4 linked regions of the Homo sapiens genome follow. The protein of the gene in region 1 interacts with the protein of each later gene in a pairwise test. Each region holds a gene or a part of one and is shown on either strand. Other genes may lie near its edges.

Region 1 (5,502 bases):
CCCGTCTCCCTCTCTCTCCCCGTCTCCCTCTCCCTCTCGCCTGGGCGACAAAGCGAGACTTTTACACACACACACACACACACACACACACACACACACACACACAACAATTTAGTGGCACCGAATACATTGACAGTGTTGTGTAATCACCACTATTTGAAAACTTTCTCTTCACCCCACACAAAGCGAATTATAGCCATTAAACAATCAATAACTTCATTTCCCCTCTCCCTAGCTGCTAGTAACTTTTATTTTACGTTGTCACTATGAATTTGGCCCATTCTAGATACCTCATGTAAGTGGGATCATATAATATTTGTCCTTTTGTGGCTGTCTTTATTTCATCTAGCGTAATGTTTTTATCCATGTAAAAGCATGGATCAGAGCTTCAGTCCTTTTAGTGACTGAATTTACACAATTCATTTTATGTATTTTGCACACATTGTTTAGTCATTAAACTTTTGGTGGTCAGTGGGTTTCCACCTTTTCCCTATGGTGAGTACAATGCTGCTATGAAAATGGGTGCACTAAGTATTTGCTTGAGTCCTTGTATTTAACTTCACCTTGAGGTGGAATTGGGACTGAAAATTCTGTGGGTAACTTTTTTTTCCGGACAGGATCTTGTTCTGTCTCTGCAGTTGTGCACTCATAGCTCACTGCAGCCTTGGCTTCCTGGGCTCAGCCGATTCGCCTACCTGAGCCTTCCAAGTAGCTGTCACTAGAGGTGGATGCCACCATACCTGGCCTTTTCTTTTCCTTTTTTTTTTCTTTTTTCTTTTTTTTGAGGGAGAGCCTGGCACTGTCACCCAGGCTGGAGTGCAGTGGCGTGATCTTGGCCCACTGCAACCTCTGCCTTCCAGGTTCAAGCGATTCTCCTGCCTCAGCATCCAAAGTAGCTGGGATTATAGGCGCCTGCCACCATGCCTGGCTAATTTTTTGTATTTTTAGTAGGGATGGGGTTTCACAGTGTTGGCCAGGCTAGTCTCGAACTCCTGACCTCGTGTGATCTGCCCGCCTCGGCCTCCCAAAGTTCTGGGATTACAGGTGTGAGCCACTGTGCTTGGCCAGCCCTTTTTTTTTTTTTTTTTTAAGATGGAGTCTCGCTCTGCTGGCCAGGCTGGAGTACAGTGGTGCGATCGCAGCTCACTGCAACCTCCACCTCCCAGATTCAAGCGATTCTGGTGCTTCAGCCTCTCAAGTAGCTGGGATTACAGGCATGTGCCACCATGCTTGGCTAATTTTTGGGGGCATTTTTAGTAGAGACGAGGTTTCACTATCTTGGTTAGGCTGGTCTCAAACTCCTGACCTCAGCCTCCCTCCCAAAGTGCTGGGATTACAGGCATGAGCCACTGCGCCCGGCCAATTTTTAAATTTTTTTTGGGCTGCGTGCAGTGGCTCACGCCTGTAATCCCAGCACTTTGGGAGGCCGAGGAGGGCAGATCACGAGGTCAGGAGATCGAGACCATCGTGGCTAACGTGGTGAAACCCCGTCTCTACTAAAAATACAAAAAATCAGCCGGGCGTGGTGGCGGGCGCCTGTAGTCCCAGCTACTCGGGAGGCTGAGGCAGGAGAATGGCGTGAACCTGGGAGGCGGAACTTGCAGTGAGCCAAGATCACGCCACTGCACTCCAGCCTGGGCGACAGAGCGAGACTCCGTCTCAAAAAAAAAATTTTTTTTTGTTGTTTTGTTTTGTAGAGGCAGGGTCTGGCTGTGTTGCCGAAGCTGGTCTTGAAATCCTGGCCTCAAGTAATCCTCTTGCCTTAGCCTCCCAAAATGCTGAGAATACAGGCCTGAGCCACTGCACCAGGCCCTTTTGCCCATTTTTGAATTCATGTTTTTTTCGTTTGTTAAGTGTTGAGAGTTCATTATTCCAGATAGTAACCTCTTAGCAAGTAAATGGTTTGTGAGTATTTTCTCCTCTTCTGTAGGTTGGCATTTTGTTGTTGTTGTTGTTTTTTGCTATTGTCTTTTTCTTTTTTTTTTTCCCCCGAGAGGAGAGTCTCGCTGTGTTTCCCAGGCTGGAGTGCAGTGGTGCAATCTCAGCTCACTGCAACCTCTGCCTCCCGGTTTCAAGCGATTCTCCTGCTTCAGCCTCCCAGGTAGCTGGGATTACAGACGCCCGCCACCATACCCAGCTAATTTTTGTATTTTTATGTAGAGATGGGTTTTCACAGTGTTGGCCAGGCTGGTCTTGGACACCTCACCTTAAGTGATCCAGCCACCTCGGCCTCCCAAAGTGCCGAGATTACAGGCGTGAGCCACTGCACCCAGCCTATTTTAAATTTTTACAGTAAATATTGCAGTAGCAAAATGGTTTTTTTGCTTTTTTTTTTTATTTTGACGGAGTCTCACTCTGCTGCTGTGGCTGGAGTACAGTGGCGTGATCTCAGCTCACTGAAAGCTCAGCCTCCTGGGTTCAGGCGATTCTCTCGCCTCAGCCTCCCAAGTAGCTGGTACTACAGGCACCCGCCACCACGCCCGGTTAATTTTTTGTATTTTTTTTTTTTTTTTTTTGAGACGGAGTCTCGCTATGTCCCCCAGGCTGGAGTGCAGTAGCGCGATCTCGGCTCACTGCAAGCTCTGCCTCCCGGGTTCACGCCATTCTCCTGCCTCAGCCTCCCGAGTAGCTGGGACTACAGGCGCCCGCCACCACGCCCGGCTAATTTTTGGTATTTTTAGTAGAGATGGGGTTTCACCGTGTTAGCCAGGATGGTCTCGATCTCCTGACCTCGTGATCCACCCGCCTCGGCCTCCCAAAGTGCTGGGATTACAGGTGTGAGCCACCGCGCCCGGCCTATTTTTTGTATTTTTAATAGAGATGGGGTTTCCCTGTGTTAGCCAGGATGGTCTCGATCTCCTGACCTCGTGATCTGCCCTCCTCGGCCTCCCAAAGTGCTGGGATTACAGGCGTGAGCCACCGCGCCCGGCCCCTTTTGGTTTTTGTATGTGTTTTTTTTTGGTTTGTTTGAGGACAACTGCTTAAGCAAAGTAGGGTTTTTAAGTGAAAGCCTTTCAAAGTTTGAGGAAAGGGGATTAACTGATACATTGGAACTTTAATGTTGACTATTATAGGCATGCTTCACTGCGCTTGACTGAATTTTTTTTTTTTTTTGCATTTTTAGTAGAGACAGGTTTTCACCATCTTGGTCAGGCTGGTCTCGAACTCCTGACCTCAGGTGATCCACCTGCCTCAGCCTCCCAGAGTGCTGGGATTACAGGCGTGAGCCACTGCGCCCAGCCAATGTAAAAACATTCTAAATGGCTAGTTGAGTTTGTCCAGATAGGGATCGTAACTGAAGAAGCTGTGGCTATTTAGCTAATACTGGTGGTTGCACCTTTCCTTGTCAGACTCCAGTCTAGCTGTCCCACGTGTAGCTCCAGTTTAAAGTCACTCGCATGCCTTTGCTCATGCTTCTGCTTAAACCTGAAGTGTGTTTTGTTTTCTCCTTATCCATTGAGATTAGTTCAAATTTGACTTTCCCTTTAATTGCTCCTCCTTCTGGGTCCCTGAAATACTTTATTTGGAATAGCACTTCATTCTTCTTCTTCTTTTGTTTTTGTGCTCTCTTGCCCAGGCTGGAGTGCATTGGCACAGTTTCACCTCACTGCAACCTCCGCCTCCCAGGTTCAAGGGATTCTTCTGCCTCAGCCTCCTGAGTAGCTGGGATTACAGGCATACGCCACCATGCCCGGCTAATTTTGTGTGTGTGTGTGTGTGTGTGTGTGTGTGTGTGTGTGTGTGTGTTTTTAGACGGAGTCTTGCTCTGTTGCCCAGGCTGGACTGCAGTGGCGTGATCTCGGCTCACTGCAGGCTCCGCCTCCTGGGTTCACACCATTCTCCTGCCTCATCCTCCCAAGTAGCTGGGACTACAGGCACCTGCCACTGCTCCCGGCTAATTTTTTTGTATTTTTAGTAGAGACGGGGTTTCACTGTGTTAGCCAGGATGGTCTCGATCTCCTAACCACGTGATCCGCCCGCTTCTGCCTCCCAAAGTGCTGGGATTACAGGCTTGAGCCACTGCACCCGGCCTAATTTTTTGTGTTTTTAATAGGTTTTGCCATGGTGGCCCGGCTGGTCTTGAACTCCTGGCCTCAAGTGATCTGCGCGCACGCATCAGCCACCCAAAGTGTGCTGATTACAGGCATGAGCCACCACAGCCAGCCTCCTCCTTGTAAAATAGTTATGTATTTGTCTACCCTCCATTTCTAAATTTTTAAGTTGATGTGGACTTAGATTATGTCTCTTTTTTTTCTATTGGTATATCGTATCGTTTGTTGGACATAGTACACAGTACTCAGTAAGTGTGGATTTTCTTTTAAAACTGTAAATGGCTTACATAATCACATTTCCATGGCGTCTGTGTTGCCTTTTATTTTCTTTGCTTCCCTGCCTCCATTAACGTGAAATTAAATTTTTTTAAACTTTGAGGTATTGTCCAAGATTTTCTTTTTGCATTAATACTTTGTTAAATATCTCAACCTTGTAATCCAGCACTTTGGGAGGCTGAGGCGGGCACATCACGAGGTCAGAAGATCAAGACCATCCTGGCTAACACGGTGAAACCCTGCCTCTGCTAAAAATATAAAAACAAATCAGCCGGGTGTGGTGGCGGGCGCCTGTAGTCCCGGCTACTCGGGAGGCTGAGGCAGGATAATGGTGTGAACCCAGGAGGCGGAGCTTGCATTTAGCCTACATCCCGCCACTGCACTCCAGCCTGGGTGATAGAGCGAGACCCCGTCCCCCAAAAAAAAAAAAAAAAAAAAAAAATTTTTTTTTTTTTTTTTTTTTTTTTTTTTTTTAAAAAATCTTGGGGGTGGTAGTGTGTACCGTTTGTCCCAGCCACTCAAGAGGCTAAGGTTCGGAAGATTGCTTGAACGCAGGAGTTCAAGTCCAGCCTGGGCAACATAACGAATCCCTTAAAAAAAAAAAAAAAAAAAAAAAAAAAAAAAAACTAGGCTGGGCGCGGTGGCTCACGCCTGTAATCCCAGCACTTTGGGATGCTGAGGCTGGTGGATCACGAGGTCAGGAGATCGAGACCATCCTGGCTAACACGGTGAAACCCCATCTCTACTAAAAATACAAAAAATTAGCCGGGTGTGGTGGCGGGCGCCTGTAGTCCCAGCCATTCGGGAGGCTGAGGCAGGAGAATGGCATGAACCTGAGAGGCGAAGCTTGCAGTGAGCCGAGATCACGCCACTGCACTCCAGCCTGGGCGACAGAGCCAGACTCCGTCTTAAAAACAAACAAACAAAACTTTTTGAAATAAGTGAACTATTGCCTAGAACTTGGAGGTATATTTTTTGGTGATGGTTTAGGATGGAAGTTGTTCTATGTATTTTATTAGTCGATATGTATATTATAGCATATCAGTAGCAGGCTTAAAGCATAGTAAGAAGTAGTGTTCCACATACCTTTAAGTTAATTTTTATTGTATTTGCTTTTTCTTTGCATTATCATTGTGACTATTACAAACTGGAATAACTGAAGAAAAGATTGCTG
Region 2 (5,502 bases), on another chromosome or scaffold:
AATTTTTTAACAATTTTTATTATCTGTGTTTCAAATTAGACATGAAATTGGAAGACAATCAACTTTGTATTTCACCAAATTCACGGACTATACATATGCAATTTGGGTAACTTCCATTAAGTATTGATTGTAGGAAAGATAGACAGCAAGTATTCTTGCTTGTCCAAAGTTGTTTCTAGATTTGATAATTATACAGATGTCTACTCACAGCCAAGTTAGTGATACCAGTTTCAAACAAGAATAAAATAAAATATTAATATAAACCTCTTTCAAGTTTGCTTTTTTTCAGTGGTATTTTAATCAAATCTTTGCAGTTGGTTCTTATTTATCACATTCCTCAGTGATAAGCAGTATAGGATTGTGGATAAGAGCATAAATCATAGTTCAGATATTGCTTTGCCATCTATTGGTTTTGTGAACTTGGGCAATAACCTTTCACATCTTCAGTCATCTCTTACCTGAGGATTGTAATATTCTCTATCTCAAAGAGATATTTGGAGGAGTAAATAAGAATGTTAATATATGGATCTTAATTAACATAATGACCAGCACCTGGTAAGCTGTCAATAAACATTAGCTATTATTATTATTATTAGCTTTGAGTCACAAATCCCTACCTTAGGGAATATCCTGGTTTCCCATTATCCATCAAATTTCCCAAGATTGGCACTTGGGAGTAATCTTTGACTCCTTTGTTTTTTGCTCCCTTTATCCACTTGACCCTCCTAATTGTCATTTGAATCTTTGTACTTCTCACTGTTCTCAGTGCTGGTACCATGGGCCAGACTGCCATCCATTATCTGTGGCCACATTAACAAGAGCATCCAGTTCTCACCCTCTGATTATACTCTCTTCAACATATTTTCAGCATTGCAGACAGAGGGACCTTTCTAAAATGTACATCAATCTGATGCAATTTTCCTGCTTAAAACCCTTCAGTGGTATCCCATTGTCCTTTATATGAAGTCCAAATTCCTTAAGACAGCCTACTGGGCCCTTCATAATTCAGTGCTTGCTTACCTGTCTAGATTCATATTTTGCAAGCTTTTTGCCATCTGTGCTTTACCCAAACTGAAATTGACTCAGATCTCTAAGACAACCTGTTATTACCTTTCACCCCCAACCTTTGAATGTGGTCTTCTCCTTACCTGGATGACTATTATGCCCCCTGCCTATTTCAGTCCAAGCACCACTTGCTCTGAGTGGCAGGTTAGGTGACTTTGTGCTTCCATTGCATCTAATGTTTTCCTTCACAGTAGCTATAATTGTATTTGTTAAAGTAGTTTCTCAATACCACTAAATCTACTGGCTTTCAACATTGGCTGTGCATTTAGAAACCACTAGGTAGCTGAAAATAATATGATACCTGGGCCCTACCTCAGACCAATTAAATCAGACCAGTTAAGCCTGGGATGGGGATCAGATTTTTTTTTTCAGGTTCTCAAGTGATTCTAAAGTATATTTGAGGTTAAGATATACTGCGGAGTGCAGTGTATTATAAGTTCCCATGAATGAGGATTTTTATTTCTGTCTTTACATATTTATTTACTAGTATGTGGTTAACATTTGGATCAACTCATTCTCATTCTGTAATACCCACATTTTAAAAAATGAATGTAAAAATGTCTTTTATTATTTTTATTTTTCAAATTTAATTTTAGATTCCAGGAATACATGTGCAGGTTTGTTACAAAAGTATAGTGCGTGATGCTGAGGTTTGGAATACAACTGAACTCACAACCCAGAAAGTGGGCATAGTGCTTGATAGGTAGTTTTTCATCTTTGCTCCCCTTCCTGTAATTTCCACTTTTAACCCAATTATACAAGCCTGAAAACCTTTAAAAAGAAAGGGCCTCCAGTTTATTTTTTTATTTCATAGCACATTTTATGGGATTATGGATATCAGTTAACTCTTTAAAGTTCCATATAAGATTTGGAGCATAGATGCTTTACTAGAGAGCATCCATAAAGATCAAGCTCTCAAAGATGCTCATCTCCCAAAAGAGATTGGGACCTAGATGCATAAACACTTAAATATAAATATTTGCTCTCTTCTGAACAAGTATCTCCTGTGGCCTTGGTCTCTACCCCACAAAACAGACATCACATCACTAATCAGGGGTTGCCTCATCATCAGTACCCTCATCATCATCAGTACACACCGACTGAGAGGCATGTTGGGTAATGAAAGATGACTGCCTTTGAAGCCGGAAGACTCCATAGGACTTTTGGAGTTCTAGGTCTGCAACATGTTTTTAGTCCTAGGTCGGCAAGCATGATGTTAGTCATAGGACCTTGAGCAAATTATTTAGCATTTGTACATGTTTCTTTCTACTATTAAAAACATTGAGATTTATCATATTTTATGTTTTTTTATTAAGGATCAAGCAAGATAACACACAAAAGTATTTTATAAAATACGGAAATTCCATGCAAAACTTTGTCCTAATTGGAACTATTTTCTATTAAATACAGCAAATATCCAAGAAGGAATTACCTAAAGCGTAGTGGCTCTCTGACAACACATCATATTTTTACCTCCTTTTCCAGAATAGAAAGAAAAGGGGGAGGAAAAAAAATCTTCCTACTCTAGGATATACTAATGATTGTTAAATCTTTATGGTATTTTCATGTTATCTATCTGATTTAAATGCAATTTTGACTATTTTTACATATTCCTCGTTGTTCATTCATACTGTAGTGCCTTCTTCTATTCCCCCACTTAACAGACTGCTTGATTATATCAGAGGTGCTTATCTGTGCAACTGTTTACTGGACGAGGGGTATGTAGAAAATACATTGTCCTCATCCTTATGAAATTACACTCATAATCTAGTGTGAGGGATGCACTAATAAAGACAATTTTATATTTAATAAGGTCTATAATATGACAGTGACACCAGTGGGGAAAAGGGACTGGTTGGTCTATTTTGATAGGTCAGGGAAGAAATCCAGAGGAGCCGACATTTAAGTTCATCCTCAAAGGCCAAGTAGGAGTTTGCCATGCTGATGTGGCCCAAGGTAGCCAATCTGTTTGTGAAATATGTACAATGCCAGATGTCTTAGGTTGAAAGGGAAATATTTTAAGGTGTTCGTAATTTTTCTTTATGTTTAAAAGGGGAAAATGGCAAATATTTTACTTTCTGTTTATGTTTGGATGATGTGGATTTTTGTTTTCTATAATTTGACTGGCTTAACTGCAAAGATATCCCTTGCTTTAAAATTTGAAGACACTGCAACTAAATTTTATTTCAGCATTTTATATTTTATAACTCTAGGTATAAAAGGCTAACACTTAATTTTCTGAGCATTCATGAAACAAAGTTTTGCAAGAACATTCAAAAGTTACAGATATAATATTTCCTTCAGAAATTTAGATATAGTACAAAATTCTACAAAGAGCCACATAGAATTGAAACTAAAAGTAAGACCAAAGTAAACATTGGACATAATCTTTATTTTATTATCACAAGAAATTAATATAAAGTAACCAAAAGTAAGTAAAGTACCAAAGCATGTTATATATTCAATTCAGAATGGTTAGGGAAGAATATGAAATAATTGCAATAGTCTAGCTTGTTTAGTTTTCAAAATAGTGTTTTTACATTAAGAACTAATATAAGGTTGTATTACACGTAGAAATTTTAAGAAGAAAACAAATAGTGATGACTTTCTATTTTTTTTTCTCTGTAGGTTTTCTTATGCAGCTTTCAGTGATTCCAACATCATAACAGTGGTGGTAGACACTGCTCTCTATATTGCTAAGCAAAATAGCCCTGTTGTGGAAGTGTGGGATAAGAAAACTGAAAAACTCTGTGGACTAATAGACTGCGTGCACTTTTTAAGGTAAATTCTGTGGTTTTTAATTTTATTCCCAAAAGAATTATCTTTGCACTTCATGTGTCACAGAGGAAGGATTTTTCTTCCTTTCTGCCTCTGAATAGAGAATTTTTTTAAAATGCAGAAAAAAATTTGTAATGCTTCTCAGCACCATCTTTTCAGATCAAGAAAATTTTGTCTTCAGAACATAAAAGAATAGGCACATAATGTGCATAGTTTTCTCATGGTATTACAAAGAATGTTCTCGAATGAAAATACTACATTATTGAAAATGAGCATATTGGAGTCTCTGCTAGCTTTGACATAGTTCTGTCACAGTGTCAAATATACTATTTATAATTAAATTATGGGCCCCAGGATTATCTGCTCTAAAGAAAAAGAGTCACAAAATAATAGACAAATATGGGGGGAAATGCAATGGACTGACCGAGGCGCTAAGGAGTGGGGATCAAGACCCCAGAATGAGAGCATAGTGCTTAGTCTGATGCAGCCTGTGAGTGACAAATCCATAGCAAGCACATTCTTTCTGTGCTGGTGCTGAGAAACAGGACCATTTTCAAGCTTATTTGCTAGCCACTTTATATTTTTATTTTGTTTTGATTTTACCATATAGATCTATGATACTCTTGAGAACATTTTAGATTACACACTATATCTGTAAAAGGATACTTCAAAGTTTCCTGTCTTAGATTCATCTGACAGTTTTTCTATGGATTGTGAGAAGGGCTCACAGTTTATGTTCAGAAGGGCCAACAGGTCTCCTTGATAAAGGGTTCCTTACTTCCTGAAGTACCAAAACGATTAGGATTCTTTTATTTCTGGACACTTCATTTTTGTCATGAATTAGACTATTCACTGGTTCTGGGAAAAAATTCAGTGGTTTGTATCGATATCTTTTACATGTGAATGACTATAATTTTATGTTCCTTTGTAACATTGAGACTTCATGTAAAACTTTTGACTCTAACTTTTTTTTTTCTTTATCCTGGGCACATGTATGCTATTTTTACTGAATTAGATAGCTTTGGTATTTATAAAAATTGTATCCCTCTTATTCATAATTTCCTGAAAATGAAGGGCTATTGTTATCTTTGATAATTTATGCTTCAAGTAAAGAAGTGTGGCTCTTTGGCATCTGTATTTAGCAAAATTTGCTTTGTATAATTTTAATGATGCATAATGGTGGTGGTGTCATGTTTTAATAATTTAAAATGTTGTTTATGTTATCATATGTAAATAGCATTTATCTCTTAATTGGTGGTAAAATTATTAATGTATACTTTATGGTTCTAGGGAGGTAATGGTAAAAGAAAACAAGGAATCAAAACACAAAATGTCTTATTCTGGGAGAGTGAAAACCCTCTGCCTTCAGAAGAACACTGCTCTTTGGATAGGAACTGGAGGAGGCCATATTTTACTCCTGGATCTTTCAACTCGTCGACTTATACGTGTAATTTACAACTTTTGTAATTCGGTCAGAGTCATGATGACAGCACAGCTAGGCAAGTTTCTTTCCTTTAGATATTTTTCATATTCTCTAAGTCTTATAAAATATGCCTTTATTTTACGTTTACATTTTCTCTGAACTTTCCAGTGTCATATGGATGGTCTTGGAGGGTCACACAGTGAAACATAAGACTGGTATAAATTGTGAATAGGGTC
Region 3 (5,502 bases), on another chromosome or scaffold:
CGACTTTTAAATTGTGTGCCATTCTGACTAGTGTGATGAAATCTCGAATGGGACATGTCATCCCTTTGTTCAGCATATTCACACTGTTAATGCCACCCACCCATCTCGTCCTTTAGTCACTTAGTCTAATGGGTTATGGGATGGAAAAAGCAAAGTATGCATAGGGTTCAGTAGTGTCTGTAGCTTCAGGTATCCACGGGAGGTCTTGCAAACCTCAAAGTAAACAGAACCAAAAGATAAAAATACGGACCAGGAGTGGTGGCTCACACCTGTAATTCCAGCACTTTGGGAGGCCGAGGCTGGCGGATCGCCTGAGGTCGGGAGTTGGAGACCAGCCTGACCAACATGGAGAAACCCCACCTCTACTAAAAATACAAAATTAGCTGGGCATGGTGGCGCCTTCCTGTAATCCCAGCTACTCGGGAGGCTGAGGCAGGAGAATCCCTTGAACTCAGGAGGCAAATGTTGTGGTGAGCCGAGATCGCGCCATTGCACTCCAGCTGGGCAACAAGAGTGAAACTCTGTCTCAAAAAAAAAATGAAAAGCAGGAGAAAAAAATAACCATTATCCCCTAAGAAGAAGAGTGGGGACTACTGGAATCTCTACACTTCCCCCTGTATGCCTTTAATCTATTTTTGGGCAATTACTGCTATGCAAATCTAACCAATTAACTTCTCTGTTTAAAACTCAACTCTTCAGTTACTCTCTACTTTCTACACATAAGAACAGTCCGCCCTCCACATCCTCAGGTTCCATATCCACATGTTCTGCATCCATGGATTCAACTAACTGCAGATGAAAATATTGGGGGAAAAAACAATAACAAAACACAATAATAAAAAACAACATGAATTTTAAAACACTACAGTATAAAAACTATTTACATAGCACTTACATTGTATTAGGTATTATAAGTAATTTAGTGATGACTTAAACTATACGTGAGGAGCCACACCTGTAATCCCAGCGTTTTGGGAGGCAGAGGCAGATGGATCACTTGAGGTCAGGAGTTCGAGACCAGCCTGGCCAACGTGATGAAACCCCATCTCTACTAAAAATACAAAAATTAGTTGGGCATGGTAGCATGTGCCTGTAATCCCAGCTACTCGGGAGGCTGAGGCATGACAATCGCTTGAACCCAGGAGGCAGAGGTAGCAGTGAGCTGAGATTGTGCCACTGTACTCCAGCCTGGGCAACAGAGCAAGACTCAGCCTCAAAAAAAAAAAAAAATTAAATTAAAAAATAAACTATACAGGAGGATGTACTACTGTAGGTTATATGAAAATACACCATTTTATTTAAGAGACTTGTGCATTTGTGAATTTTGGTACCCTGGGGTGGGGGCTGTCTGGAACCAATCTCCTGTGTATACTGACGGATGACTGTGTGTGAGAGGGGCAATATGGAGAGTTCAAAGAACATTTTAATATGACAATGATATCTAGTAACTCTTTAGCATGTTAAAGAGATAAATCTGTTGCATTTCCCGATTTACCTTAATCCACAATAATCTACCAGTCCATGGAAGGAGATGATCCACATAAAGATAGATATATCAGGTTATGTAGCTCAAAACTCTTAGCCATGAAAATGATCTTATCCCAAGAAATCTGTTAATCTCTATCTAGTAACAGAGAATGTGCACATTAATCATTTGATTCACTAATTAATTTCATCTCTCACTGTTTGGTTTATACATTAGTGTGTGTTTGGTTAACTAGACCATCTACCACGTATCTACTGACAAAAATAATATTGTCTCTGAGAAGCTGAACCTCAGCTGCACAAAAGGTATCTGCAGGAATGACTGTGGTTTTTCTTAACTAACCTGAGTATGATGATTACAACAAGCAAATTTCCAAACACTCTTAAATTCAAACTGTTAAAATTCTTAAGAATTCTTACATTCCTGAGAAAATTATTTGCTTGTTATGACTAACAGCTTATCTGAGGACTCTTCTAAAAAATCATTCCAACATATTCATTTAGCATAATGTATTTAATATGGTAATTTGGCAAAGCCAAGATTCAAGTCACAACACTAAAAAGTAAATTATTTATGAAACCCCACCTGAAAAATCTAAATTAATGTAAGTGAAGGTGGAGATATTATATGATCAATTAAGTTGGCCACAAAACCACAGCTTACTGATGCTTTTCCTCTTATGTAAAAATCACAAATAACCAATCTTTTAAAAACTACATATAGACCAGGAACGGCGGCTCATGCCTGTAATCCCAGCACTTTAAGAGGCCAAGGCAGGTGGATCACCTGAGGTCAGGAGTTTGAGACCAGCCTGTCCAACACGGTGAAACTCTGTCTCTATTAAAAATACAAAAAAAAAAAAAAAATTAGCCGGGTGTGGTTGTGGGTGCCTGTAATCCCAGCTACTCTGGAGGCTGAGGCAGGAGAATCGCTTGAACACAGGAGGTGGAGGTTTCAGTGAGCCAAGATCCCAAGATCACGCCACTGCACTCCAGCCTGGGCGACAGAGCAAGACCCCATCAAAAACAACAACAATAAAAAAAAAACTACATATAAAATTAAGCCTGCTACCTGTCAAAGGCATAATCATCTTCCAAATAAAATATTAAGAGCTTCTGACAATGTTTCTTCAAACTGAAAAGCTCCCCTGTTAAGATTTGAGAAATTAAGTTGACAAAGCAAAAAGCTCCTAAAATCCAACTAAGTTTAATATATTCCATTTGTAATAGGTGACAATTTATAGCCTTCTAAATGAATATTTAAGTATTCTGTTATATTTTATATAACACTTAACATTTTTCAAAGTACATTCACATAGTATTTCAGTGGATCTTCAACAATCCTAAATCAGTAAGACATATTGCTAATAAATGAGCATTATAGATTAAGTTCCTTACTCAAAGCTCAGAAAATTGGGTAATCTAGAACTCAAGGGTTCTGCCTTGGTGCTCCTTTTCATTGTATAGTATTCTATTACACCATAGTGAACTTTCCAAAGACTAATGGATTAGACAAAATATATAAACAATTTCAATATGATAAATAAATACTATAAGAATTATATATGAGATCCACCAAAAGAAAATATGCTTTCTAGATACATGCAAAGATGAGACAAGGATCTTAGCAGATTCTGAAAATAAGCAGTTCAGAAAGATTGGCATTTGGGTGATGGGTCACAAAATTAAAATGTTAGGCAAAGGCCAGGTAGAGCTAAGGAATTTAAAAGCACCAGTAACATAAAGATCAATACCTGCTTTCCTCCTCCTCCAAGAACAGTAGTTAAGTTTTGCTATATGATTTTTCAAGCATAAATATAAACAAACAAAATCTTCACAGATTCCCTCAAAAGGACAACCTAAAAAAGATGCTGCATCATCACAGTTAATATTTATGTGGCAGGCCCTATCCTACATGTTTTATATATGTTCATTCATTTAATCAGCACAACTCTATAAAATGGGTACTCTTTTTTACACCCATTTTACAGACAGGAAACTGTAGCACAAAACTTGCTCAAGGTGACACAATTATGTAGCTGAGCCTTGATTTGAGCCCAGGCAATCTAGTTCTTAACTACTATGTTACAAGGCAGAAAAATGGCCTCTTCAAACATAAACTGAGGTCATGCTAAGTCTCACCTATTCCTGCAGACCAGGTTTTAAAACAAAACAAAACGGCTGAGCATGGTGGCTCAAGCCTGTAATCCCAGGACTTTGGGAGGCCAAGGCGGGCAGATCACGAGGTCAGGTGTTCAAGACCAGCCTGGCCAACATGGTGAAACCCCATCTCTACTAAAAATACAAAAATTAGCCGGGCGTGGTGGCGCTCGCCTGTAATCCCAGCTACTCAGGGGGCTGAGGCAGGAGCATTGCTGGAACCCGGGAGGTGGAGGTTGCAGTGAGCCGAGATCGCGCCACTGTACTCCAGCCTGGGCGACAGAGTGAGACTCTGTCTCAAAAACAAAAAAACAAAAAACTCAAACAAAATGCAAGTTACTAAATATATAATTTAAATTATCAATATAATTTAAAGAACTGGTATAGCAAAGGTGTACTAACGGTAATTATGAATTATTTCATAGTATGCTAAATATTTTCAGAAATGATAATTGAGTACAGCTACTCTTGCTGCTTTTACAGCTTTATCTAAAAAAATGTAAAAACTACCAGAAAACCCAAATAACAGGTTTAGGATGATTTCTGAAAATGAGAGCCCAGTTTTAGTTGAATGTTTCCATAGGGATGAACTAAGATGAATTTTATTTATATTTATATACATATATTTTTTATTTTTTGAAATTCTTTGATAAGCTGCTGGTGGAATAAGATAAATTTTAAATGACTAGGCTCTTGCATCAGAATTTGAATGTCAAGAAATGAATTGTCACAAAGCAACAATAGATTCCTGGTTTGTTTTACACAAAAACAACCTCTTTCCAGGTTTTTAGATTACTTCTCAGACTGTGTTACTACGGGTCAGAAAAAAGGTAAGAGAAAAAAATTTGCCAATACTCCTAATCGGTGACTTTGAGGATTTAAGAACAAACTCCAAAAACTATTCCCTGAGACGGAAAGTTACGCTGATTCTCATCCTAAAAAATAAGGAATGTGGCACAAATTTAAAAGATAAGAGGGAAAAAATCACCAACATTCAAATAGAGAGATTCAGTTCAATTAGATATTTTAAGAACTATAGCAGACCATCCTGGCTAACAAGGTGAAACCCCGTCTCTACTAAAAATACAAAAAATTAGCCGGGCACGGTGGCGGGCGCCTGTAGTCCCAGCTACTCGGGAGGCTGAGGCAGGAGAATGGCGTGAACCCAGGAAGTGGAGCTTGCAGTGAGCCGAGATTGCGCCACTGCAGTCCGCAGTCCGGCCTGGGCGACAGAGCGAGACTCCGTCTCAAAAAAAAAAAAAAAAAAAAAAAAAGAACTATAGCAAAGAAATAAATGATGGTTTCTTAATCACAGAACCACATCCCATTTCTGTAACACTGCTATACTATTCACAAAATATTAATGTCATGTACTCATGACACACAGTCTTAATAAAAGACAGAGAAAAATAAGCAGTTAAGTATATTGGAGCTTCAACAAAAATATGATTTAACCTCTCTTTTCAGGTAGATGTGGAAACAATCTCATCAACATATAACGCATCATGTGAACTCTTCAGAGGCAACTTGGGAAGGTGCTTAAAATAAATCATTCTTAAATCTGTGCATCAATGTTTTCTTTTTCTTTCTTTCTTTTTTTTTTTTTTTTTTTAGAGACAGAGTCTCACCCTGTCACCCAGGCTGGAGTGCAGTGGTGCGATCTCGACTCACTGCAACCTCTGCCTCCCGGGTTCAAACAATTCTCCTGCCTCAGCCTCTCGAGTAGCTGGGATTACAGGCGTGCGGACCACGCCCAGCTAATTTTTGTATTTTTAGTAGAGATGGGGTTTCGCCATGTTGGCCAGGCTGTTCTCGAACTCCTGACCGCGTGATCCACCCGCCTCGGCCTCCCAAAGT
Region 4 (5,502 bases), on another chromosome or scaffold:
GTAGGTATAATCACGTTTAGGTTTGAATCAGTTAGCAGCTGTGCTGGCTCTTCTCTGAAGTGCTTGCCACAAACTCAGATTTCTGTATTTATGCTGGAATTACCTCCTTTCTCCTCCTCTGTGGTCTGACTTGTTTGTTTATTTGTAGGAATTAATCAGTCAAATGCTTCAGGTAAATGTTGAAGCTCGGTGTACCGCGGGACAAATCCTGAGTCACCCCTGGGTGTCAGTAAGTACCCACATTCCCAGGGAATGGGCCTCACTGTGCTCTGTGGCCAACAGCACGGTTCCTCACTGTGATGTTTGCACATGCAAAAGTTATGCATCCAAGCTCCATGGTAGATGTCTGTCTGTCCCATTGAGCAAGTAGCATAAAGATGGCTCCCCAAGAAAGCAGTTGGCACTAGGGTCCCAGTCTTAGACCCTGCCCCGCGAGTCACCTGGGCAAGTCACTGTCCCTTTCTTGGCCCCAGTTTCCTTATCTGCAAAATGGAATTGGCCACAGTGCTCCTTCAGGAGGCTTTTAGCTCTCGTCTTCTGCGGTTTGGGGTTTGAGAGTTTCCAGGGTTTGCCCTGGAGATGAGCCTGTTTCAGACCCTGACCTTTGTGCCTTCAGGGAACGTGCTCTCAGGAGACCTCTTGCTGTTGATGGGGAGGCTGAGACAGGATCGCTTCAGAGCTGAGTGGAGACACATGATATTGACTAGAGTTCCCTCCCAGAGGCTCAGGTGGTCTCTGGGAGGGAAACATGATCCAATAAATGGGGACTGTGGGAATTACATTTCTCCCATTTCCGTCATTTCTGGGAGGCTCCAGGAGAGTGAAGTTAGTTTAATTAGCCCAGGGCTTTGTTGACTCCGGTTGGGAAGCTCCCTGTGTACCTCCAATGCCCCACCCACCCACCATCCAGGTGCAGTTTCTCTGGACCCTGCTTGCTGCTCTCTTGGGCTAAATGACGTGGTTCTTGGACCAAGTAGCTAAGATACCACATTTTTTTTTATTATAAGCAATAAAGACTAACAACTAAATGAATTCTTGATTAAAGTGAAAAACAATGATCTTTGATGCTTCCATGGGAGGGATCATACTAAATCGTGTGCCTTGGGTGAGGGTCTCAGTAGCCTAAAGTGTGTCCTGCTTTGTGTCCCGGGAGACCTGTGCCCTCTCCTGGGCCTACTCTAGTCCTGAGGGGCAGAGGGAATGGTGTGGGGTCTTTCTGAGGGCATGGGCCTACTGAATAACAATAGTTATTTTTGAAAGATCATTGTTTCCCTAATTCTGTGGCTAAGAGGGGCCCATTTAGGAAGAGGTCAGGAGGGTGGTTGAGGCGGGGAGGGGGACTCTTAAGGAAAAGACAACTCAAACGGGAGGATGGAAAAAGCATTGTATTTGATTGTTTTCTTTCCTGTAGGATGATGCCTCCCAGGAGAATAACATGCAAGCTGAGGTGACAGGTAAACTAAAACAGCACTTTAATAATGCGCTCCCCAAACAGAACAGCACTACCACCGGGGTCTCCGTCATCATGGTGAGTGGAAGGCGGCAGGTCTGGCCTGACTGCGGAGCCGGCCTTGAAGTTTTTGAATTAGGTAGCCGGGAGCTGCCCTCACATGGAAGTTGGTGCCTTCCGTAGTCCTATTTCATATGAAGATTGGCTTGGCATGTGGAGGGCACTCATTCGGCAACTCCCAGGCTTTGGGCACTGTGTGGAGGGGCTTGTGTAGGGACCAGCAGGCCTGGTGTGAGGGGTCCAGGCGTCAAGGAGCTCCTGGCTGGGCCCTCTGGGCAGCTGCTTCCACTCTTGTCTCTGCCTTCTCATCTAGAGAGACTCCCAAGCCCTGGAGGGGTGTGTTGTGTTAGGAATTAACTCCCTGCCTACCCCAAGGCCTCAGAAATAGATTATTAGAGATGTGAATTATTCTTTGAGACTTGGGATAAGAAACAGCCAAAGCTAAACATATTTCAGTTTTAAAAAATCAGTGTTTTATAAAACACAGTTTGGGGCTTTTAAAGGTACATAATCAAGGAAAAAAATATATATTCATTTTTCAGGGTTGGTAACATTTTATGAGATGTCAGTGACAACGATGGCCTTATTTTTTTCAGCCTTTTCTTCTTCCAAAATGTTTCTTAAGGCAACTCTCCTAAATACATAAACACAACAAATTAAAATGAAAAGTGACATGAGAGTAAATGAATCAAAAGGAAAAAACATTGAACCAGAGGTGAGGGCAGCACACCCGCAGCAGCTGTCCAGGCCTGAGCCAATGCAACCCTGGGCGGGAAGGCCAGCTCACCGTGAGCAGGTAGAAGCCAGCCAGCCACCCAGGCAGGGACCTTGGTTCTCCCCACACACTCCCAGGAGCAGGGAACAGGGGTGGAGTGGCCTTTCCCAGAGCTGGAGTTGGCTGCAGCAGCTTTCGAATCAGACCTGCCAAGGTGATGGGCGTCTGAGTTTCACATCTGGGCCCCCCGTGACCCCACTGAGTCCTGACAGCTAAGGATGGGCCACCTCCACAGCTCCGTCACTCGTACTTGGGACAGGCCTCTCATCCTCTGGGAAGGTCCTCCTTGTTTCCTACCCAACTAGAAGGGAAACAGTGGCATATTCTCATGGTACATGGTTGTCTGAGAGCCTTACCTAGGAAGACGCAGGGTCTAGATAGAAGCTATAAGGAAGCCACACACATAACCCACATCCCCACACCCCCAACATCCCCCACACTCCCCACACCCCCCACACCCCCCACATCCCCACACACCACAAATCCTCCACACCCCCACACCACACATCCCTCACACCCCCCACACCACACATCCCCCACACCACACATCCCTCACACCCCCCACACCACACATCCCCCACACCACACATCCCTCACACCCCCCACACCACACATCCCCCACACCACACATCCCTCACACCCCCCAACACCCCCACACACCCCCCACACCACACATCCCCCACACCACACATATCCCCCACACCCCCCACACATCCCCCACACCCCCCACATCCCCCACACCCCCCAAATCCCCCACACCACCCACATCCCCCACACCCCACACATCCCCCACACCCCCACACATCCCCCACACCCCACACATCCCCCACACCCCCCACACCACACATTCCCTCACACCCCCCACACCACACACCCCCACATACCCCCACACACTCCCATCCCCCACACCACACATCCCGCACACCCTCCACACCACACATCCCCACACACCTCACACCCCCCACACCCCCACACAACCCACATCCCCCGCACCACACATCCCCTACACCCCCCACTCTACACACCCCACACCCCAACACACCCCACATAACCCCCACATACCCCACACCCACACCCCCCACACCCCCCACACCCCCACCCCCCACATACACACCCACACACCCCACACCCCCACATAGCCCACACAGCCTACACACCCCACACCCGAACACACCCCACATACCTCCACACACCCCACACCCCCCGCCCCCACGAGCGTGCAGCACTCTGTTATATGCATTGAGCATACACCAGGTACCCCCACACACCCCCAACACCCCCACACACCCCACACCCGAACACACCCCACATTCCCCACACACCCCACACACCCCACGAGCATGCAGCACTCTGTTATATGGATTGAGCGTCCACCAGGTTCTCAGCACCCACTGGGCCGTCATTCTCTTCTGTCCCCCGGCTGCGTTTATGTGGCCACCCTCTGTGTGTCCTTGCAACTCCCCAGCTGCTCCCCTGCCAGAAAGTGTGCTCTCCCTCTCTCCCTCTCTCCCTCTCCAGACAGAGCCTGGGTTTGCAAGCTGAGTCTTTTGATGGCTTGCAGGACTTTGGGGGCGCTCTGTGCCAAAGCAGTGAGAAGGCCTTTTGAGTTGTGGTTTCCCTTGAATTTTAGCAGTGTTTTGCTGAAAGCCTGAGAAAGTCAGAGTTGTCAAAGAATTACAGCTTAGACACTTTGAAAAGAACCATCTTGATTGAGCCAACAGCATGAGAATGTTTCCAGCGATTCCCTTGCGAGAGCTAGCATTGATGGATGGGCTCAGTGGTACACAGTCTTGCTGTGCACTGCGTTGTAAGGCAGCTTCTTGGAAAATTTAGAAAAATAAAACATTAAAAATTGGCATACTCAACGTGTCATGAAAAAACCTTAAGAAGAGAGATTGGTTAGGATCAAAATTTAATAACCATGTTAAGTCTTCTGAGAGGAAGAACCTTTAACCGCCCTGTGCCCAGGGCTTAGGAGAGTTTGCTCGGAGACTGTGAAGGGAGTCATTGCTGGGGTCACTTTTTGACTCAGGGGCCCAGATAGGAATCAGTGGCCATAGGCCTGTGCCCGGCCTCTTTATGGCTGGCTCTCAGCTGACATTCTGGAATGATTAGCTGTTCTACAGGCTCTGTCCTAGATAATGACGCTTAGACCCCCTCAGACAGAACCTATGTCGTGTGGTTTACAAATACCATTTTCCATTTGCTGATGAGGAGTTCAGGACTCAAAAGACAAACCCCTGGGCTCTGACAGGGTGTTTGTGTGAACAAACAACCCGTTATTGTTTGCAGCTCTGATGGTGATTGTAAATGTTGTATGTTTATGTGTGTTCAGTTGTCATTTTGCGCATGTTGGCAGGGTGTCCCCTCTAACCCCATGTTACCTACACAACTCTGCAGGCTGTTAGCTCAGAGGAACTGCTGATGTCATGATCCCATTCAGTACCTACAGGGAAATTCAATCAGTCTTGCCTCTGGTGGCACCCATTCTCGATGGCCAAAACACCAGCCTGTGACTTTTGGGCTGTCCCAAAAAGTGGGAGGGGAAGGCCTGCTGCTGATCCTCCCCTGGCGCAGGACCTGGTCTGGGGCATGGTTGTGTGGGGGAACTTGCGATGCTGCTGTATTGTCCTCCTCGTCCTCCTCATCCTCCTCGTCCTCCTCATCCTCCTCATCCTCCTCATCCTCCTCACGTCACTGTGTGTCCTGTCTTCGGAACAGTTTTAAGTGTTTTTACATTAAAAATAACCTCAAAATGACTCTCCCTGGTACTCATAGGTCCTCATAACTGAGACTGTGGGGCCAACCTGGTTTTCTGCAGATACAAATGATAGTGGAAATAGTGTCAACCGTCTGGAGGTTGAATCATCAGATAACTTACAGACAGGACCTTCCCATCTGCTGTCACCCTAGTGTTCTCATCCCCAGAGCTGGGGCCTGAGACTTCAGTGAGAAAATGATGGGCTAGAAATTGGTCCATAAAGGTGAAAAAAAAGTAAAGTTGATGGTGTTATCTGCATTTTGTTTGACAGTTTGATTTGACAGTTTGAGAGGCACCTCAGAGTTTCCTTCTTTACCCCGCTGAGACAGTGGGAGAGCCTGAAGCAGAATCCTGGTATTCACCACGCTGCGTCCGACCAGCGCGCCCCATCCTCAGCCCCTCTCACGCCTGCATGCTTGTCTCAGTTTCTGATGCCGCCGTCCGGCTCTCAGCTGC

What was found. The genes of interacting proteins can lie anywhere in the genome.
Region 2: the proteins of YWHAE (region 1) and LRRK2 interact in binary tests that used the Homo sapiens proteins (3 or more experiments, as listed by UniProt).
Region 3: the proteins of YWHAE (region 1) and WNK1 interact in binary tests that used the Homo sapiens proteins (3 or more experiments, as listed by UniProt).
Region 4: the proteins of YWHAE (region 1) and DCLK2 interact in binary tests that used the Homo sapiens proteins (3 or more experiments, as listed by UniProt).

The regions. Positions count from the first base shown.
Region 1 is NC_000017.11:1,354,417-1,359,918, reverse strand, and holds part of YWHAE (14-3-3 protein epsilon), read left to right. Parts: intron 1-5,502. UniProt on the Homo sapiens protein: Adapter protein implicated in the regulation of a large spectrum of both general and specialized signaling pathways. Binds to a large number of partners, usually by recognition of a phosphoserine or phosphothreonine motif.
Region 2 is NC_000012.12:40,359,709-40,365,210, forward strand, and holds part of LRRK2 (leucine-rich repeat serine/threonine-protein kinase 2), read left to right. Parts: intron 1-39; coding exon of another isoform or gene 40-127; exon of another isoform or gene 128-3,476; intron 3,477-3,693; coding exon 3,694-3,846; intron 3,847-5,133; coding exon 5,134-5,342; coding exon of another isoform or gene 5,343-5,425; exon of another isoform or gene 5,426-5,502. UniProt on the Homo sapiens protein: Serine/threonine-protein kinase which phosphorylates a broad range of proteins involved in multiple processes such as neuronal plasticity, innate immunity, autophagy, and vesicle trafficking.
Region 3 is NC_000012.12:757,791-763,292, reverse strand, and holds part of WNK1 (serine/threonine-protein kinase WNK1), read right to left. Parts: intron 1-5,502. UniProt on the Homo sapiens protein: Serine/threonine-protein kinase component of the WNK1-SPAK/OSR1 kinase cascade, which acts as a key regulator of blood pressure and regulatory volume increase by promoting ion influx.
Region 4 is NC_000004.12:150,248,157-150,253,658, forward strand, and holds part of DCLK2 (serine/threonine-protein kinase DCLK2), read left to right. Parts: intron 1-148; coding exon 149-229; intron 230-1,411; coding exon 1,412-1,528; intron 1,529-5,317; exon of another isoform or gene 5,318-5,400; intron 5,401-5,502. UniProt on the Homo sapiens protein: Protein kinase with a significantly reduced C(a2+)/CAM affinity and dependence compared to other members of the CaMK family.